4 linked regions of the Homo sapiens genome follow. The protein of the gene in region 1 purifies or fractionates together with the protein of each later gene. This does not show direct contact. Each region holds a gene or a part of one and is shown on either strand. Other genes may lie near its edges.

Evidence for each region. The genes of interacting proteins can lie anywhere in the genome.
Region 2: the proteins of TRPC4AP (region 1) and SCAF11 purify together in Homo sapiens (affinity purification with mass spectrometry; 2 studies listed by BioGRID and IntAct, with this or other methods). This does not show direct contact.
Region 3: the proteins of TRPC4AP (region 1) and PRRC2C purify together in Homo sapiens (affinity purification with mass spectrometry; one large-scale study listed by BioGRID and IntAct). This does not show direct contact.
Region 4: the proteins of TRPC4AP (region 1) and CCDC6 purify together in Homo sapiens (affinity purification with mass spectrometry; 2 studies listed by BioGRID and IntAct, with this or other methods). This does not show direct contact.

What each region holds. Positions count from the first base shown.
Region 1 is NC_000020.11:35,084,352-35,089,979, reverse strand, and holds part of TRPC4AP (short transient receptor potential channel 4-associated protein), read left to right. Parts: intron 1-5,628. UniProt on the Homo sapiens protein: Substrate-recognition component of a DCX (DDB1-CUL4-X-box) E3 ubiquitin-protein ligase complex required for cell cycle control.
Region 2 is NC_000012.12:45,979,500-45,984,316, reverse strand, and holds part of SCAF11 (protein SCAF11), read left to right. Parts: intron 1-4,817. UniProt on the Homo sapiens protein: Plays a role in pre-mRNA alternative splicing by regulating spliceosome assembly.
Region 3 is NC_000001.11:171,530,288-171,535,104, reverse strand, and holds part of PRRC2C (protein PRRC2C), read right to left. Parts: intron 2,763-4,817; coding exon 2,144-2,762; intron 1-2,143. UniProt on the Homo sapiens protein: Required for efficient formation of stress granules.
Region 4 is NC_000010.11:59,895,482-59,900,298, reverse strand, and holds part of CCDC6 (coiled-coil domain-containing protein 6), read left to right. Parts: intron 1-4,817.

The DNA of each region.
Region 1 (5,628 bases):
CCCCATTAATTTTTGTATCTTTGGTAGAGACAGGGTTTTGCTCTGTTGCCCAGATTACCCATATTTTTATACTGTTATGGCATGTGGTATAGTAGGAAAAGACCAGATTTAAACATTTTTTATTTTTTATTTTTTAGACGGAGTCTCGCTCTGTTGCCCAGACTGGAGTGCAGTGGCGCAATCTCGGTTCACTGCATCCTCCGTCTCCCGGATTCAAGCAATTCTGCCTCAGCCTCCTGAGTAGCTGGGATTACAGTCGTGTGCCACCACACCTGGCTACTTTTTGTATTTTTAGTAGAGATGGGGTTTCACCATGTCGGTCAGGCTGGTCTCCAACTCCTGACGTCATGATCCCCCTGCCTTGTCCTCCCAAAGTGCTGGGATTACAGGTGTGAGCCACTGCGCCTAGCCAAAATTTTTTCATTGTAGTAAACAAATATATAATATAGGCCAGGTACATTGGCTCATGTGTGTAATCCCAGCACTTTGGGAGACCAAGATGGGATGATCACCTGAGCCAGTTTGAGTCAAGCCTGGGCAGTGTGGTGGAGCCCCAGCTCTACTACAAAAAAAAAAAAAAAAAACATTAACCAGGTGTGGAAATGCATGCCTGTAGTCCCAGCTGCTCAGGAACCCGAGGTGGGAAGATCGCTTGAGCCTGGCAAGTCAAGGCTGCAGTGAGCCATGATCACACCATTACACTGCAGCCTGGGCAACAGAATGAGACCCTGCCTCAAACTATATACATATATAAATATATATATGTAAACATAAAATTTACCATCTTAACCATTTATAAGTGTATAGGTCAGGCCCAGTGTGGTGGCTTACACCTGTAATCCCAACACTTTGGGAAGCTGAGGTGAGCGGATTGTTTGAGCCCAGGAGTTTGAGACCAGCCTGGGCAACATGGTGAAACCCTGTATCTTAAAAAAAAAAGGTGTATAGTTAAGTAATGTGAAGTATATTCCCATTGTTGTGAAACAGATTTCCAGAACTTTTTCATCTTGCAAATCTGAAACTACCATTGAACAACTTCCCATTTCTCCCTCCCAGTCCTTGGTAACCATTCTTCTCCTTTCTGTTTTTGTGAGTTTGACTACTTTAGATAACCCCAGTATAGTAATACAGTATTTGTCTTTTTGTGACTGGCTTATTTTACTTAACATAATGTCCTCAAGGATCATCTGTGGTATAGCATGTGATGGAATTTCCTTGGAAAAAAAAATCAGATTTTAAAGTAAGGTGGACCTGAATTGAATCCTAGCAGGGTGACCAAGATTAAGTTATTTAACCTCTCTTAACTTCAGTTTCCTTATTTCTAAAGAGGTGATGATAACATCTATCCCATAAAGTTGTTAGGAGGATTAAGTGAAATAATATGTTTTAAAAGCGTAGCCAGTGTGGCATATAGGAATAGTTGTTTAGTAAATAGTTGCTCTCAGCTAGTAGTTAATTAGACTGGGCTTCCTGAAGAGACTGTGTCTTATTTTTCATTGTATCTGCAGAGCCTGAAACCTTGCCAGCCATTTGATATTCAGGAAATTGCTTAAATTGAAATACTGTGTCCTCAGTCTAATTTCTGTCTGTACTTGCCAAGCAATCTCATGGCTTTAAAGAGTTCCAGAGTCAGATTACCTAGGTTTGAAACCTAGCTCTGGTATTTACTTACTATGTGTCTTTAGGCAAGTTATTTAATCTGTTTATGCCTCAGTTTATTTATTTGTAAAGTAAGTATCATAGGACCTGACCTTCCAAGGTTGTGGTGAGGACCAAGTGAGTTGTACATATAAAGCACTTAAAATAGTGACTGAAACATACTTTCTCAGCTATAAGTACATAGCTTACTGCTATAAAGATTAGCTTGTATTGTTATTAATAACTGCTCTATACGCTGACGGATCCTAAGTTTCTGTTTCCATTCGTGTTTCTCCTTTTAGCTCTGGATGGGTAGGTATATCCAATTGCCTTCTAGCATTTCCACTTTGATGTCTAATGGGCATCTCAAACTTAGTATGTCGAAAGCCAAAATCCTCTCCCTTTTCCATCAGACCTGATCTTCTCCATCTCCCTAAATGGGGCATAAGGGAAGCCTGAGTCATGACTACTGGCCACATAATTTGTAATGGGTCAATTCTACTTGGATTTTAGTTTGCTTTATTTTCTTCCCTTCGTTTTGTTCTGCCCTCTGTCAAGGCAATAAAATATGCTGGGGTGATACTTTGGAGTTTACTGAGCCTTTTCATATTCATCAGCACATTTGATGCTTAATGCAAATCAGATCTTATAAATCCTTTGCTTAAAACTCTCCAGCCTCATCTCATTGCAGTTGATAGAATCAATTCTGGATTCCTTACCATGGGCGTACAAGGCCCCAAATGATCAGTACGAGTTGAAGGAAAGGATAGACTGAGTAAACGCTGGGCTCTAGGATAGTGCAGCTCACATTACAGGTCATGACCCGCCATCCCTGGATGCCCTTCAGTTTGGCAATCTGGTGACAGACTGGGTTGTGGGATGCTGTTATATTTCCCACATGGCAGTCGTTGCTTCCTTTATGATTATTGGCATATCTAAATGCCCCTGAGTGTTCCTTACTTTATATTTTTTCTTTAGATTCACTGACTTTTTTTTTTTTTTTGAGATGGAGTCTCGCTCTGTTGCCCAGGCTGGAGGGCAATGGTGCAATCTCAGCTCACTGCAAGCTCCGCCTCCCAGGTTCATGCCATTCTCCTGCCTCAGCCTCCCGAGTAGCTGGGACTACAGGTGCCCGCCACCACGCCTGGCTAATTTTTTTTTTTTTTTTGTATTTTTAGTAGAGACGGGGTTTCACCGTGTTAGCCAGGATGGTCTCGATCTCCTGACCTCATGATCCGCCCACCTCGGCCTCCCAAGGTGCTGGGATTACAGGTGTGAGCCACTGCGCCTGGCTGACTTCTTTTTTTTGTGAGATGGAGTCTCGTGCTGTTGCCCAGGCTGGAGTGCAGTGCACAGTCTCGGCTCACTGCAACCTCCGCTTCCCGGGTTCAAGCGATTCCCCTGCCTCAGCCTCCTGAGTAGCTGGGACTATAGGCATGTGCCACCATGCCCGGCTACTTTTTGTATTTTTAGTAAAGACAGGGTTTCACCATGCTGGCTAGGCTGGTCTCAAACTCTTGATCTCTTGATCCACCCACCTCAGCCTCCCAAAGTGCTGGGATTACAGATGTGAGTCGCCGTGCCCAGCCAGATTCACTAACTTTTAAAAAAAATTTCATTAGGCACTACTTGTTTTAGCCTCATTCTAACCATTAGTATTTATGAAACCTAGGCATTTAAGTCAAACAAATCTTACCTGGCTTTTCAAAGGTAATTTGATACTGAAAAACTCCTGATTAGGATAAAGTCTTATTCATATATATATACACACACACACACACACACACACACACACACACACACACACACACACACATATATACACACACACACATATATATACACATATATATATACACACACATACACACACACACACACACACACACACACACACACACACACACACATATGCCATTCATTTCAATGGGAAGTTTTCGTATTCACAAGCCCTTAAATTTGCTCCTAATTTTACTGAATCATACCCCATTAAAGGACACAAAAGTATTCAGTGGTTAACATGTATTGTCAGAATAACCCAACAAGGTATTTTATCTTTATTATCCTTTAAGATATCTATTTAGGCTGGGTGCGGTGGCTCACACCTGTAATTCTAGCACTTTGGGAGGCCGAGCTAGACGGATTCTTTAAGCTCAGGAGTTCAAGACCAACCTGGGCAAGATGGGTGAAACTCCATCTTTACTAAAAATACAAAAAATTATCCGGGCGTGGTGGTGCGTGCCTGTAATCCCAGCTACTTGGTGGCAGTGGTGGTGGTGTGGGGGGCTGGGAGGGGGAAGGGGGCAGGGCTGAGGTGGGAGGATCACTTGAGCCCAGGAGACGGAGGTTGCAGTGAGATTGCGCGAGACCCTTGCATTTAGTGTGGTATTTTGAGGCATTAGATGTCTTACATTTAGGATTAAAGAAACAAATAAGATGCACAGTTATCTTCATGGAATTTAGCCTTTAGTTATTTTTAAAAACAATAAAATCAGTGGAAACTGTAAATGTCTAGAAATGTCATATTTGCTAAACAGGTTGACAGTTTAGAGGGTATGATGTAAGAGATTATCACTGCTGTAAACTGTTAAACCACAAGTACTTCAAGAGAAAACCCATGTGATACCTGCCAGTAATTCAACTGGGAAGATGACTGAATGGTGGCACTTTTGTCACAGTGCTGAGCTGTTCACAAGGAAAACAAAATTCTAATGATTTTTTTTTTTTTTTTTAGACAGGGTCTTGCTCTGTTGCCCAGGCTGGAGTGTAGTGGTGAAAAAAAACTACTGAAACCTCCGCCTCCTGGGCTCAAGCAATCCTCCCACCTCAGCCTCCCGAGTATCTGGGACTATAGGCGCATGCCACCATACGCAGCTCATTTTTGTATTTTTTTGTAGAGATAAGGTTCTGCCATGTTGCCCAGGCTGGTCTTAAACTCCTGGGATCAAGCAATGGGCCTACCTTGGCCTCCCAAGTGCTAGGATATGAGTGTAAGCCGCTGTGCCCAGCCCCAAATTATTATTTTTAAATGAGAGTACATGCCTTGTAAGACAATGTATAAATAGTAAAGAAATTGCTTGTGAAGTCAAATATTTGGACTGTGATTAGATCTCTGCGTATCATGGAGCTTGTAACAAAAAAACAGCAGTGCCCTGCCTGCTTTGCACCTCTAAGTTCCATACTCCTAATGCTGTTCAGTGTCCATACTTAGCTATTTCTTTTGCAAGAGAAGGATCCAGGAAACAGGAGAGCCAGTATTTCTAAATAACATGGTTATAAAGCTGTTTCTTTTCACTTTTAGATACTATCTATTTTCTTCGCTCTTGAAAGACTAGGATTTAATTCACACATTCGATTCCTTCTTACTCGTCTCCACTAGTCTACCAATGTAGTTATATCACAGCTTTGGCTGTTGTTAAGTATTTACATTATGATGTTAGCATTATTATTTACAGCAGGGCCATATATTGTACAATTATATTTGTTTTATATAATTTTTTTGTAGTGTTAAAAACAGTCCTCTTCCATTTTTTAAATTGAAGGATAAATATACATATACCCTGTATATATATACATATACATATATATGCATATAAACATATATACATATACACATATATGCATATAAACATATATACATATACACATATATGCATATAAACATATATACATATACACATATATGCATATAAACATACATACATATACACATATATGCATATAAACATATATACATATACACATATATGCATATAAACATATATACATATACACATATATGCATATAAACATATATACATATACATATATACATATATACACATATATACGTATATACATATATAGATATATACATATATACACATATATACATATATACACACATATATACATATACCCTTTTGACTTTCATTAGCATAATAGTGCATCCTTTAATTTATTTTACTGTTTTTAAATTTGTATTAATGGGGTACAAGTGAAATTTTGCTA
Region 2 (4,817 bases), on another chromosome or scaffold:
GAAAAAAAATAAAAGGAAGTATCAGGCAAACCCAAATTGGAAGACATTTTGCAACAGAACTAATCTATAAGCTTTAAGGAGTACAAACAAGGTCATGAAAGTCAAGACTGGGGGACTGTTCCAAGTTGAAGGAGTCTAAAAAGAAGTAATCCCTTTTTCTTTTTATTAAGGTAAAAAGAATCTTAATCTGGGTTCCCTCACTATTCGTAACATGAGCATTTTGCTCACTAACTTGGGCTCCAATGCCTCCAGCCAGAATAGCAGCATACAGACGTGTTCTTTTAAAGTTTATACTTATTCCTTTTTGTAAAAGATTATTATACCAACACTTTTAGTGAAAATTAAAAGTGTTCTCAATCTTTAAACCCTCTTGAGTAAATTTAAACCCTCTTAAGACTCACATCTCTATTAGGGATAAGACTAAACTTCTTCCTTTTTTATCCTTTCTTTTACCCTAGACTTCTCAGATGTACTTTTAGGGTTGTCTTTTTATTGTAATTTTGACAGTAAGGTAAAAATTAGTTCAGTCTTTGTGTGTGTGTGTGTGTGTGTGTGTGTGTGTGTGTGTGTGTGTTTTAGGTTTAGGAGTCAGTCAGACCTGGTTTTGAACTCTGGTTGTCCTAGATGACTGATTGTCACCTTTTATAGGTGATCTAATCAGTATCTCAATTTCCTCACCTAATTTTTTAATAACATTTATCTAAGTCCAGTGGTAATAGCAGCTAACTCTGTCTCTGTTCATACTCTTAAGTTAGCTTTGTTTAGTGGGTGATTTTTAAGCCTTTTTAATGCAGTGTTCTGTTGTTCAGTATTGACGGTGTTTTAATTTTTTAAATGTATCGTGTTCTGGTATTTTGAGGATTAAATGTGGAAAGGCATGCCAGAATGTGTAGTTCATTACGTAGTATATTGTAGGCATTCACTCTACCCATAGTTCTGAACTCCAGGTTTGTTGATATCTATGTGTCTATTAGGTCTGTGCCCTAGGGGAGCTTAGTCCTAATCAGGCCTTCTTTTTTGATATCTAGTCTTCTTTCCATTTTCTCCTAACTAGTTTCTCGTACTTTCCATCTCTCCACCACTGCCACCTTTCTGCTACTACATTAAGCTCAAAATCCCCAATTTAAACATCTTATAAACCACTTTCAAAACAAATAAATGGGAGAGAGATAGACTTGAAGTCCACCTAAGGAAACACAACGTAAGTCCTAATTGGACTTAAGAACATTAACTTTTTGCACTTTATTATCATTATTTTTCTTTACTTGCCTCAGTCGTTAGTTACTCCCCCACTGGTACATTTAAAAAAATGTCTTAGAAACTCTTTGCCTATTTCTCACATTTGGCACTTGGCATATGCTATCTTGTTCATCTTCTGTATCCTATGTCTCCAAGTCTACTCCTTGTACCGGGAAGTGATACAGTATCTTAATCCGTCTTTATATTCCAATACCAGGCTCAGTACCCTGACCACAGTAGTTATTTAGCAGCTTAAAGTAAACCAAAACAGAAGTACAAACATGAAAGACAGCGGCCAAAACAACACTGTTATAAAAATTCTCTGGGATCAATGAAACAGTCTACAAATGATAGGTTTTGTTTGGTTTGTTTTGAGACACAGTCTCATTCTGTCACCCAGGCTGGAGTGCAGTGGTACAATCTCGGTTCACTGTAACCTTTGCTTCCCAAGTTCAAGCAATTCTCCTGCCTCAGTCTCCTGAGTAGCTAGGATTACAGGCGTGTACCACTACACCCGGCTAATTTTTGTATTTTTAGTAGAAACGGTTTCACCATGTTGGTCAGGCTGATCTCGAACTCCTGACCTCAAGTGATCTGCCCGCCTTGGCCTCCTGAATTGCTGGGATTACAGTCATGAGCCACTGTACCCGGCCCCGATAGGTGATTTTTTAATGTAAATATACGTATAGCACTATTTTGTATGCCTAGATGGCTTGTCAAGAAGAATGATTCTGTAAGCTGTTATAATGGGGAATAAATATTAATGACTCAAAAAATTTATAAGCTATCACTCACCTGAAAACTTCATCATAGAAAACCCTTCAGATAGGACAGTTTTAATGTAATAGGTCATATTTCTTTAGAAACTGTTGTGCATGTCCAGTTACTTAAGACATCAGCTTGAGTAATATGAGGGAGATGGATGAAACGAAATAGCTTCATTGTTTCAAAACTGCCACAGAACTAGATATAATTAAAACTGAATGGAGGGTAAACAAATCCACTTAGACTCTTTAAAAAGGTTTAAAATATAGTTCATATTAATATAGCCATTCCAACCATCGTTTATTATTGTTTGCATTATTTGGCATATCTTGTTCTATATGTTTAACCTATCTTTATTTTTAAAGGGAGTTTCTTGTAGACAGGCATATAATTCAGTCTTTCTTTAAAATCCAGTTTGATAATCTCTTTTAATTGGTGTGCACGATTATTTACATTATTTACATTTAATATAATAATGTTTGTTCCTCTATTTTCTTCCTTTTTTGGGAGGTATGGGGAGAGACAAGGTCTCACTCTGTCCCCTGGCTGGAATGCTATGGGATGGCCATAGTTCCCTGCAACCTTAACCTCCTGGGCTCAAGTAATCCTCCTGCCTTAGCCTCCAGAGTACCTAGTACTACAGGCATGCCACCACACTCGGCTAATTTTTTAAATTTTTGTTAGAGATAGGTGAACAGTCTAGAGTTAATCTGTAACTAGAATAACTTGGGGAAATGAGATAAAAAACAAAAACGTATTTATTCAAGGATGACGGATTATATTTATTCCTCAGAAAATGGGAGAATGATGTTTCGGTTTTTGGATCTTTTTGGGAGACAGGAATCTCAGAGCTGTAAGGGGCTATTTGTTTAGAGATTATTTTGATACAACTTTAAGGGACTTGGATTAATATCAGGGTTATTTCTTTGGCATGGATTTGTAAGACTGTTCTCTACATCATCACATCATTTAGAATAGTTTGTTTTAGGGATGAGTTCATTCATCGTTTTTGACTCTTCATCCCTGTTTCCTTTCTCATTAACATGTCTTACTGATATACTTTTATGGTGTCGAACAAATCATATCCTGTGTTAGTCATGGTGAACATAGCAGAAGACTGGCCAGTTAGAAATTTCACTTGAAAAGGTAGTTGGCAGTTTGTAGCATTTATAATAAGATTACATTTAGGTGATAATCCGAATATCACTCAATCTCTAACAGCATTATTTTGGTCTGAGTTGTCTCTTCCAAAAACCAACTATATATACTCTTTGACAATATTTCTTTATTTTGTTAATTTATAAATCACCTGCCCTGTTTCCCTAAAACAAACTATTCTAAATGATGTGATATATTAGGTTATGTCCTAAGACATTGATAACTAGTATCTTACTAATATCAGTTTAGTTTTTCCTATTAGTGTATTTTGGGAGGAGGAACACTCCTCCCAAACACAGGTATTTTGGAACCTGGTGGAGCAGGACAGTCTTAATCCAGTTATTCTACTCTCAGGTTCTTTGCACTAAAAGGGCATGAGAGTCACTCACTAAATAGAGCTAATTTAAGAGAATGGAACATAGAGTTAGCTGCTATTTATTACCACTGGACTCAGATAAATGTTACTTAATTAGTTACATAAATACTGTAAGGATATGATGTTCAGGTGAGTTGTTGGGTAACTTATGACCCTTATAGAGATCCTTTTGTGTATTAGGCCGTTTAGTGTCAATGGTTAAGAGCATAAGGGAGCCTGATTATCTGAATTTCAGTCCCAGCTCCATCACTTGCTAGGTGTTTCCACAATAAAATGGGGGTAATGACAGTATCACTGTAAAATGAAGTTAATCTCTCAAGATCATAGTGGTTTGTTAATATATGTAGAGAGAGGGACTAAGTGTGTTTAGAATCATGCCTGACAAATAACATGTGCTATGGTTGCTAAACATATCCATAAATAATTGGGCATTCCTTTGAAGGCATGCTGTTGGATCCTAGTAATATAGTGATAAAGAAGGCAGGTTAAAAGCTTAACATTTTTGCAGTCATTTGAATCATTAAGAATGTTACCACTTCTTGTTGTTTGAATACTCATGATTTCTGGTGACTTGGATTAATATTTGTGTTATTTGTTGGTAAATTGCTAATGGGTTCCAGTCCTACTACTTAATGCTGGCTTTTCGATCTTGGGCATGTTACTTATTTTCATTGTATGTAAAATTGAGATGCCTCTTTCACCAGGTTCTATAAAAGTTAAATGAGATCATTCGTGACCTGTTAGAAAGTAGTAGCCAAAAATAATATGAAACGCTTACACAAAAATCTAGGTTATGGGCATTTGTAGCATTTGTGATATGATTACATTTAGGAAAGAATCCCAATATCTATTCATGCCTTATGCTAATGTGGCAGAATTTTTTTTTTTTTAATTTTAAGTTTGCATAGTATGTAATACAATCGGTATCTGGGTTAGAGTTGTATTTCATAGGAGTAGGATTGTGAAATGCTTCTTTAAATTATGTGTAAAATATTCATATGAGGGCACATTGATACATATACATTTATGTAACATAATTGTACTTATCTCTGAGATACCTAGAAGGATGAGTTTGTGTTTAAGAAATTCAGATAATAGGCATAGCTAGAGAAAAGAGTAGATGTCCTGTTTACACTGTGCAAGATAATTGCTTTTTTCTGTCTTGGTTTTATAATAACTACTTGTACCAATTTGTAAGGGATTAGTATGAAGAAAGTGATCAGTTCTCAAGAAACCAACGAAAGAGTAACTTTCAGCATTTGTGCAAAATAAACTAATT
Region 3 (4,817 bases), on another chromosome or scaffold:
AATGTAATTGTCAGTATTTACTGGTAGTTCATTAAAATCTACATGAAAACACAAATGGCCTATAAATACTTAAAAAGAGAGCATGTTGGTTTATTTAGTTATTTATTGGGTAAAGGGACTATTATCTGTAAGGAAAACTAATGAGTTTAAGTCTGAAGACAACAGAGTGATCACTAGTTATCTTCAAACATAATTCATTCTAGAATGTCATTTGTCACAATTACAAATCCACGCTTGTTACAAATTCTTTTCTCAAATGACTAGTAATGAATTTAAAATGGAAGTTTATCTCCCAATGTAAAAGCATGCTGTTAAGAATCACAAATAACATTTTTATTGCTTGGATTACATTCAATATTAAGAATGTTGTAAAAGAGTGAGCAGGTCATGGTGGTGCATGACTGTAATAACAGTAACTCAGGAGGCTGAGGTGAGAGGATCACTTTAGCCTGGGAGTTTGAGACCAGCCTGGGCAACACAGCCAAAAAAAAAAGAATGGAAAATAATATACTGGAGGAAAAAGAGCCACATAGGCACTGACTTTAAAATCACGTGTGTCTTGAGAACATCTCAGAGAGCATTAAAACAAACAAAAAAATTGTATGTGTCTAGTATCAGAATTGAGGGGGGAAAAAAAAATCACATGGGTACATCTCACTGATAAACAAGCTAAAATTAAATTGCCATGAGAGAGAATATATAAAATGTGAATGAAAATAAAAGCACAAATAAAACTTATTAAACTATGATAATGTTTTCCTTTCTCTTGTGAACACTTTATTTCACTATTTTGGTGTTATGAGCAATCTTCATAAGTACTTATGTAATATAAGCCCACTATTCAATAGCAAAGTCTCTCTAGATTGATTAATATGAAAAAAATCTGAAATCTTAGAGTCTTAACAAATGGTCCATACAGGCCTTATTTCATTAAAAAAATTAAAGATAAAATACTCATACTCCTTTATAGTTAAATTAAGAGCCAAGTTTGAAGGTAACCCTGCATATAAATAAAAACTTTATTTTTAAAAACACATTCTTATTATTTTAAGCAGCAGTGCCTTGTAGAAAAGAGCATGAGACGTCAGGTTAGAAAACTTACAATATTTCCACATCAGAAAATACACTGAAATAAAACTGCATTTCTATTTTAATTCAAGTCGTTCATTAAAACTAAACTTTAGGCTGGGCGCGGTGGCTCACGTCTACAATCCCAGTACTTTGGGAGGCCGAGGCAGGCAGATCACGAGGTCAAGAGATTGAGGCTATGCTAGCCAACATAGTGAAACCCCGTCTCTACTAAAAATACAAAAATTAGCTGGGTGCGGTGGCACGCGCCTGTAGCCCCAGCTACTTGGGAGGCTGGGGCAGGAGAATCACTTGAACCTGGGAGGTGGAGTTTGCAGTGAGCTGAGATTCCGCCACTGCACTCCAGCCTGGAGACAGAGAGAGACTCTGTCTCAAAAACAACAACAACCACCACCACCACAACAACAACAAACAAAAAACGAAAACCCTGAACTTTAACTTTGCCAAGGCTTTATACTATATTTGAATGCCATTAATCAGTCTACAAGCCAACTCGGAGAAGAACAAAAAAGTTGATTAGATCTAGAAAAAGAATTTTATTTTAAAGTATAATTACTCCAGGAAATTACAGTTTAATAGCATATCAACTACACCATGGAAGCTTGCATGTTTAAACTGATTAAACAGCAAACCTGAAATTATGAACTAGGTGCAGTCATTTAATTATGATAATCCAACATACTCATTAAGCTCTATGCCAGTTCAGTTTTAGAGGTATTAATGCATGTGAACAAATGAGATTTTGTTTAGTTAAATGTCTTGGAGTCAGAAAAAAGCAGGGGGAGAATCAGTATATGTGACTATGAAGCCAATACAATTCTGCAGATAAAACAGAAATGAAGCTCATCTAATAACTGAGAAACACTTCAGAGACGTCTGTTCATATACAGAATTAGAAAACACGGCTCTAGCCCATATTTTGTACTGCAAATGCTATCATAAAACAATCACTTTTATATTGATTACATATATTTAAAATATACAAACCCCAAACTGTAACCAACATAAAGCTCTTTGTAAAGTTTTTAAAAGAGAATGAAGAATACTATCAAACCTTTATTACAGCTGTTTTCACTTTCTTGTTTTTCTACCATGGGCTCTAAATTAGGTTCTCTGGGTTCAATTTTCTCCTCTAATTTTTCCCTTTCCTTCTCCAGCTCACATTCCTTTTCTTGTTCTTTCATCTTTTGTAGTTCTTTTTCCTTTTCTTTCTGCCGTTCTAGTTCTTTTTCTTTTTCTTGCTTTCTTTCTTTCTCCATTTCTCTTTGTTTTTCCTGCTCCTTCTCCAGCTCTTTCTCCTTTTCCTGCTGTCTCTCTCTGTCTTTTTCCCTCTCCTTCTCTCGCTCCTGTTCTTGTTCTTTTTCAAGTTCTTTCTCACGCTCCCGTTCTTTTTCTCGCTCCCTTTCCCTAATTTCCTCTGGAGATGGTTGTTTTTCCAGGATGCCAAGCTTCTCATCCAATCGTTTCAGTTTCTCCGCACAAGCTGCCTTCCTTTGTTCTTCCATTCTTCGCTCTTCCTCTTCACGCCGTTTACGAGCACGTTCTACTGCTGCAGAAATTTCTGATTGTTGTCTTCGTCTTTGCTTCCATATTTCATCTTCATCAGCTACTTGCTGCTTGGAGGGAAAGGGGCCTGGTCTTCCAGGTACTGCCTGTCGATCTGGAGGTGGATGCTGAAACATTAAGGTATCAGATGAGTTATGACAACTCTATTTCTGACTAACACTGGGTATCAGGCATGGAGAAGGAAAAACCCCACAAAAATATCAGAAATTTCTCTGATGAACATACACATTAAAATGAAAACACATAAGATGGGAAATATATTACATCTAGATAATTCACCAAACTAAGACCAGAATAATTAATCCAGCGGTCCAATGTTTACTGAGTATGTACCTATTATTGTGCCAGACGTTGTTGCTCATTCAGTATTTGCTGAATAAAACTAGAAGCACAACAGTGAATCTCAAAATCTAAATTTAGAGACAAAGGAAATTTAGCATGGATACTTTAGAAGCAGCTGCCAGAGTTGGAATGTCTAAGGGAGAGAAATGAAGGTATTAAATATCCAAAATGATGGCATGTGAGCCCTGAGAAAATTAAGGTACAGCTACAGGTAAAAAGCACAGAGCCAAAGAAGCAAAGTGAAAAAGACAGAGTCAGTGCTGTAATGATACCCCAAAGGAGAAGAAATTCCTACAAATTAGTCTGGGTGAAGAAAAGTTCTATCTTTAGACTGAAAGATCCAGAAAAGCGTATCTAGAACCCGGAGTGGAGAATCGGAGGATCATCTGAAACATCCAAGTTTCAATGACTAAATTTTCATTAATGTGTTATAAAACAATGACAGGTTTTAAAATCACTGCTTGCAACTATGCAAAAACAATAAAAGTAATTAAAAAAATGTTTTTAACATATTGATTTTAAAAGCTACTAGGGTGAAGAAATCTTAAGAGCCATATGTAACCCAGCTGGAATGCTTATAAAAAGATTAAACAATGACACAACGAAAACACTTGACTATCTTTTTAAATGAATGCAGACTACCATTTACTAATAGTGCCATCATATGCAAATTACTTCATCTCTCTTGTGCTGAGTTTCTTCATCCACAGCTCAGAGATAAGCTGAAAAACCAAATATATTAGTGCCTAATTTACACAACTCACTTCATAAAAGTAAAATTTACATAAAATGTGCTGTGCTGCACATATTTTAAGTGTATAGTTTGATGAGTTTGGACAAATGATACACCTGTGTAACCACTGCTCCAACGCAGACACAACATTTCCATCACTCCTCTGCCTCCCCCTGTGGCCCCAAGCACCCCAACCCTAACCTTGTATAGTTCTGTTTGTCCTAGAATTTTATATACATGTATAAAATTATATTCTCTTTTGTGCTAGCTTCTTTTGCTAAGTATAATGGCATTGAGGTTATTTTATGTATAAGTAGTTTGCTCCATTTTACTGCTGGATAGTATTCCATTGTGGGCACGTTGTTTCATGTATGATAGACACGTGGGTTGCTTCCAGTTTTTAAACTATGAATAAAACAGCTATGAACATTCATGCGTAAGTCTTTGTGTAAATGTATGTTTTCCTGGCTGTTGGATAAACAGCTACAAGTGAAAATCCTGTGTCATATGGTAAATAGATATTTCATTTACAAGAAACTGCCAAACTGTTTTCCAAAGTGGTTATAAGGTTTTCCAATGTATAAGGGTGCCAGCTGCTCTATACATCCTTGCCAACACATGGTGTCATCAGTCTTTAATTCTGGCAGTGCAGTAAAATCTCAGTGGTTTTAACTTGTATTTCCCTAATAACTAAAGACACTGAATATCTTTTCATGTGCATACTGGCCATTCTTACATTTTCTTTTGAGAAACAAATGTTCAAGTCTTTTTGTTTAACTACGTATTATTGAGTTGTAAGATATTAAAAAAAAAATAAAAATACGGCCCAGGCTAGACACGGTGGCTCACATCTGGAATTCCAGCACTTTAGGAGGCCAAGGCAGGAGGACTGCTTGAGCTCAGGAATTCAAGACTAGCCTGGGCAACATGGCGAAACCCCATCTCTACAAAAAATACAAAAAAATTAGCCGGGCATAGAGGCACATGCCTGTGGTCCCAGCTACTTGGTAGGCTGAGGCAGGAGGATCGCTTGAGCCCAGGAGGTTTAGGCTGCAATGAGCTGAGATCTTGCTCCAGCCTCGGCAAC
Region 4 (4,817 bases), on another chromosome or scaffold:
CTGATACTTCCTCTTTGTCAGCCACACACCGGGGTATGCACCTGCTACTGGGGTATGCACCTACTTCCGTGGTTCCATAGACACCACCCCCCCCACCCCACGTCACTGACACTCGACTATCGAGATCTTTCCCGGTTCATGTGTAAATTTCTTTGGGGGCAGAATTTGCCTTGTTCATCACATTCCTCAGTGCTTGGCATGTGAGAAACACCCAGAAATTTGTTGAGCTGGCTCCAGAGGCACGGGTATGTATGTACTTGTTTCTTTCTGTGATGAAGGTGCCAACACTCTCTCTGGGACCTTGTCTTCATAGAGCCACTCCCCTGCCACAACAGCAAACACTTTCTTTACCATAGTTGATGAAACAGACCAGATATGTGAATGGATGCATTGTATACTTTGGGGGACCATTGCAATCAGTGTGCCCTTGCCTTCTAGCTTTGGGTGATGTGGGCTACCTTGCAGCATACACCTGGGTGTTCCTGATAACATTTTATCTGAAAGGGGACAAAGTATTTTCAGGTTCTCCTTTCTAAGTGTTTCTGAGCAGGGCTTGGAGGAAAAAGTAGCCCCATTGGAAGTGTTCAGATTTGCTGCCTTGGTTTTGGTGATGGTGGCAGATCATTCCAGGTGTTTCCTATGACTCTTTAATGTTGAAATGCACCACTGGGAAACAACTCTGGCCCATTGCAGGGGGATGCAGTAATGCAAATAAATACTGGTGACCTGTAGCAGTGATGGGGGAAGCATCTGAAAACAGGGTAGGGGGATTGTTGAATTCTTACGTCTGCTGTGTCTTGCAGAGACACAAGTGTCACCACAGTGTATTTGTGTGTGTGTGTTTTCCTTAAATCATGCCTTGCCGAAATAATTGTGTTTACACTTCAAAATGCTAATCCAAACTACTGAACTGCAGTCAGGCTGAGTAAGGAATAATGGTAATCTTTTCTGTCCTCTCTGCATACTTTTTTTCCTTAGTGGGTAGGTGTTGCTTTTTGTTTTCAATCACATTGTGGTTGTTTTCAGGTATATTGAATTGTCAAAGTTGGCAGAGTAAATGTTCACAGGTTCAATATGTTCCTGCTTGGTGATGGTTGCAATTTTCTTGACAGAGGAACTAATCCTCTGGAAAATATTTTTAATTGTGAGGATCTTGGGGTGGTGTTAACTTGCAGATTCTTCCTACTTCTCCAAGGCTGTCAAATTTTCTTATCTTTTATGGCTGTGAAATGCACAGCTGTGAAGTCTATTCCAACCCTGATACCAGTAAATTGCAAAGGTCACTTTGTGTAGGTTCTCTCTTTAGGGATAAGTATTCTTTTAAAAAAGGCTTAACAATATGATTGATGGTCATTTAGAATTAACCCTCCCCTTTACTTATTGGTTCCTGGATCAGACATATGGAGTGCAATTTAATGATTATAGTTCATTACAATACTCATTTGTTTTTTGCTGGGAGATTTTTCTGGTCTCCCCTCTCTGCCCCCGCCTTTGTTTCTTCAGTAAGGTACAAAATGGCATGTAATAAATAAAATAAATATAGCCTCAAAGAGGCAGGATTCAGCTGTCAAGTGCTTATAATACTGTGTGCTGGATACAAATATCCAAAAGGAATGTTAGGGCTCTCCCGGTAGCATAGCGAGGATTGCACTTGACTTTCATTCAGCCTGGCCCTGGCCTGGTGCTGTAGGGAATACAGAGCAGAGGGAAACAGCCTTTCTCTCCAGCCTTGGGGATTGTGCAGTGCAGAAGGAACCAACACACACATGGATGCAGGAAGGGAAGCTTAGGCCGACTCCTGTAGGGGTTCCCAGGGAGGGGAATTTTACCTTCCAGCTTCCAAAATGAAGTTCATCTATCTCTGTGAATATCTTTAAGGGTAACAAGTTATCACATTCATTCACAGTTTAATTAGCTTGTAGTTTATTATGTAAGGCAGAGATGGGGAGAGCTGTTGCTCAATTTATGCTGAGGTGGCACTGGGAGGCTTTTGGTTTGTTTTTAATTTTTGTTTTTATGTGATGATGATTGAAAAGAAATGTCATTGATATTTTAATTTCATAATCTGCATCTGTCAGTACATGGAAATTATCTAGGTGGTTTTTTTCCCTCTATTCCTGTTTCTTTCATGGAATAATGGTGGATGGACGGAATTTCTCAAGTTTTTAATCCGAAACTATCTGAAAGCAAAGACTTCTTGCAGTAAAATTAGAGGTACTATTTTATAGGAAATTTTGAATTCTAGTTTTTTACAAAAGCAGTGCTGATTGATGGGCTAATCTTCCATGCATCTGTTCCAGATCAATCCAGCCTTGTGGTGCCAGGTGTGTGTCCAAAGTGATCTGGGTAATACCCACCAGGGCATCTCAGGGCACTGAGGATCAAATGAGGCCACTTGGTACTGCAGAGCAGAGTTGGGATGTTCAGCCAGGCATAAGTCATCATTCAAAAAGTTTTCCATAGGAGGAAGGACGAGAGTAAAAGAATGAAAGCAGCAGGGATTATGGGTGACCTAAAGAAAATTCTTAGAAATCTAGTTACCTGTGTTAAACACTTCACCTGTTGCTTCTATAAGTGAACAGTTTGAGTCTTTTGTGCTGTCTGCTTGTTGAGATTGAATTAGAGAGGCTAAAAGGGACAGATCTGAGAGAAAAATAATTATACCTGGAGTTTCATATAGATAACTTTTCAACTCATGAAATTACTTGTATGCAAGCTTGACTTTTTAAAAATTATCCTAATAGGCCAGGTGTGATGGCTCACGCCTGTAATCCCAGCACTTTGGGGAGGCCGAGGCAGGCGGATCACCTGAGGTCGGGAGTTTGAGACCAGCCTGACTAACATGGAGAAACCCCTTCTCTACTAAAAATACAAAAAATTAGCTGGGCATGGTGGTGCATGCCTGTAATCCCAGCTACTCGGGAGGCTGAGGCAGGAGAATCGCTTGAACCCGGGAGGTGGAGGTTGCGGTGAGCCGAGATTGCACCATTTTACTCCAGCCTGGGCAACAGGAGTGAAACTCCATCTCAAAAAAAAAAAAAATTATCCTAATATACCAACTCAAATGATAACTTTTATTCTACTGAGAGATGTTTTTTGTGGGGTGGAGTTCTTCACTAGACCAGAGTTTATCTAAACAAAGACATCCGTTGAGTCAAAACATCGTGTCTTCACTTCATTTAGTAGCCCTACTAATCTTTGAGGAAAAAATTGACTAGGTGATTTTATTGTTTTTATTAACCAAAGAGTACTGTTTTAAGTGTATTCTCCATAAAGTAGAGTTAGACTTCTTCAGGTTCAAATCACTACCTGGTAAGGGTTTATGTCCCTTGGAAAGTATATTAACTGTTTTATGCCATTTTGAGCCTTGCATGCATGGGGTTTATATTGTGAAATACCTTAGGTACCCAGAGAAGAGTACCAGTGACTTTTTTTGCATTTTTTTTTGTGATAAAAACATACACAACATATAATTCACCATTTTAACCATTTGTAAGTGTACAATTCAGTGGCTTTAAGTACATTCACAGTGTTTTGCAACCATCACCATTATCCATATCCAGAACTTTTCATCATCCCAAAAGGAAACTCTGTACCCATTAAACAATAACACCCATTTTTTTTTCCTCCCTGGTAAACCTCTATTCCTAGTGACTTAATTTTTTTTGTTTGTTTGTTTTTGTTCTTGTTTTTGTTTGTTTTTTTTTTTAAAGAAAGACTTACTCTGGTCTACAAAAGCTGCTAGCTGCTTTTTACTGTCCTGGTCTTGAAGTTATAAATTTGGACCTTAAGTGTTGATGTCTTATTTTAACTTAAGTTTGTACTGCCTGTTAGCTGTCCCATATATGGTTCTTTTCTGTCACTCAGCAAATGTGCAGTGCCCTAGCCCTACGCCCAGCTCTGGGCTTGGTGCCAGTAAGCACCCAGATGTGGAGATGCTGGATGAGGGAATAACCCATGGCAAGAGCTTGTCCTCCAGGAGGGAAGGGTCATCCCCCCATATCTTACCCCCAACACTTCACAGATCATGGTTGCTTTTTATTTTTTATTTTTAATGAAATGTATGCATTTAATTTCCTTGATAGCATTTGGAATAAACTGTAATTTTATTTTTTAAATTACTTATTTTTATACTCACAGGTACAGTTTATTACAGGGAAAGGATGCAGGTTAAAATCAGTCAAGGGAAAAAGCATATAGGGCAGAGTCCAGGAACGTTTTTCATTGTGGAGCTTCTAGTTATCCTCTCCCCGTGGAGTGTGCACAACATTACTTTCCTGGCAACAACGTGTGACAATACACATGGAGTATTGCCAACCAGCGAAGTTTGGCCAAGCCTTGGGCTGCAGAATTTTTACTGGGGCTCATCACATAGACATGGTCGCCTATCCACAGGGCAGATCTCAGTTTCCAGGCCCTGAGTAGGCTGTGCTGATACCACATGGCCTAAAGCGCTCAGGCTGAATCACACTGTTAGGCTTTCCAGTGTGATCCAACGCCCTCAGGTAAACAAAGACACTCTTATCAGGCATGACCTTCGAAAGGGTTAGAAATTGCCTCCAGAACGTCAAGGACTAAAGCCAGACCTCTTTTGAGGCAAGGTAAACCGGAGTTTTAAAAGGTTTGAAGGAAAAAGAAAGCTTACAGAATTTTTATTCACCACCATTGTCCCACTTCCAAATCTTTTTGTGTTGCTGTGATAACAGTGGATGTTTATCCAGTGCTTACTATGGGTTAGGCACTATTGGAAGGGGTTTGCGTATATCCTCTCATTTAATCCTCACCACAGTCCTATACGATCAGTACTACTGTTTATC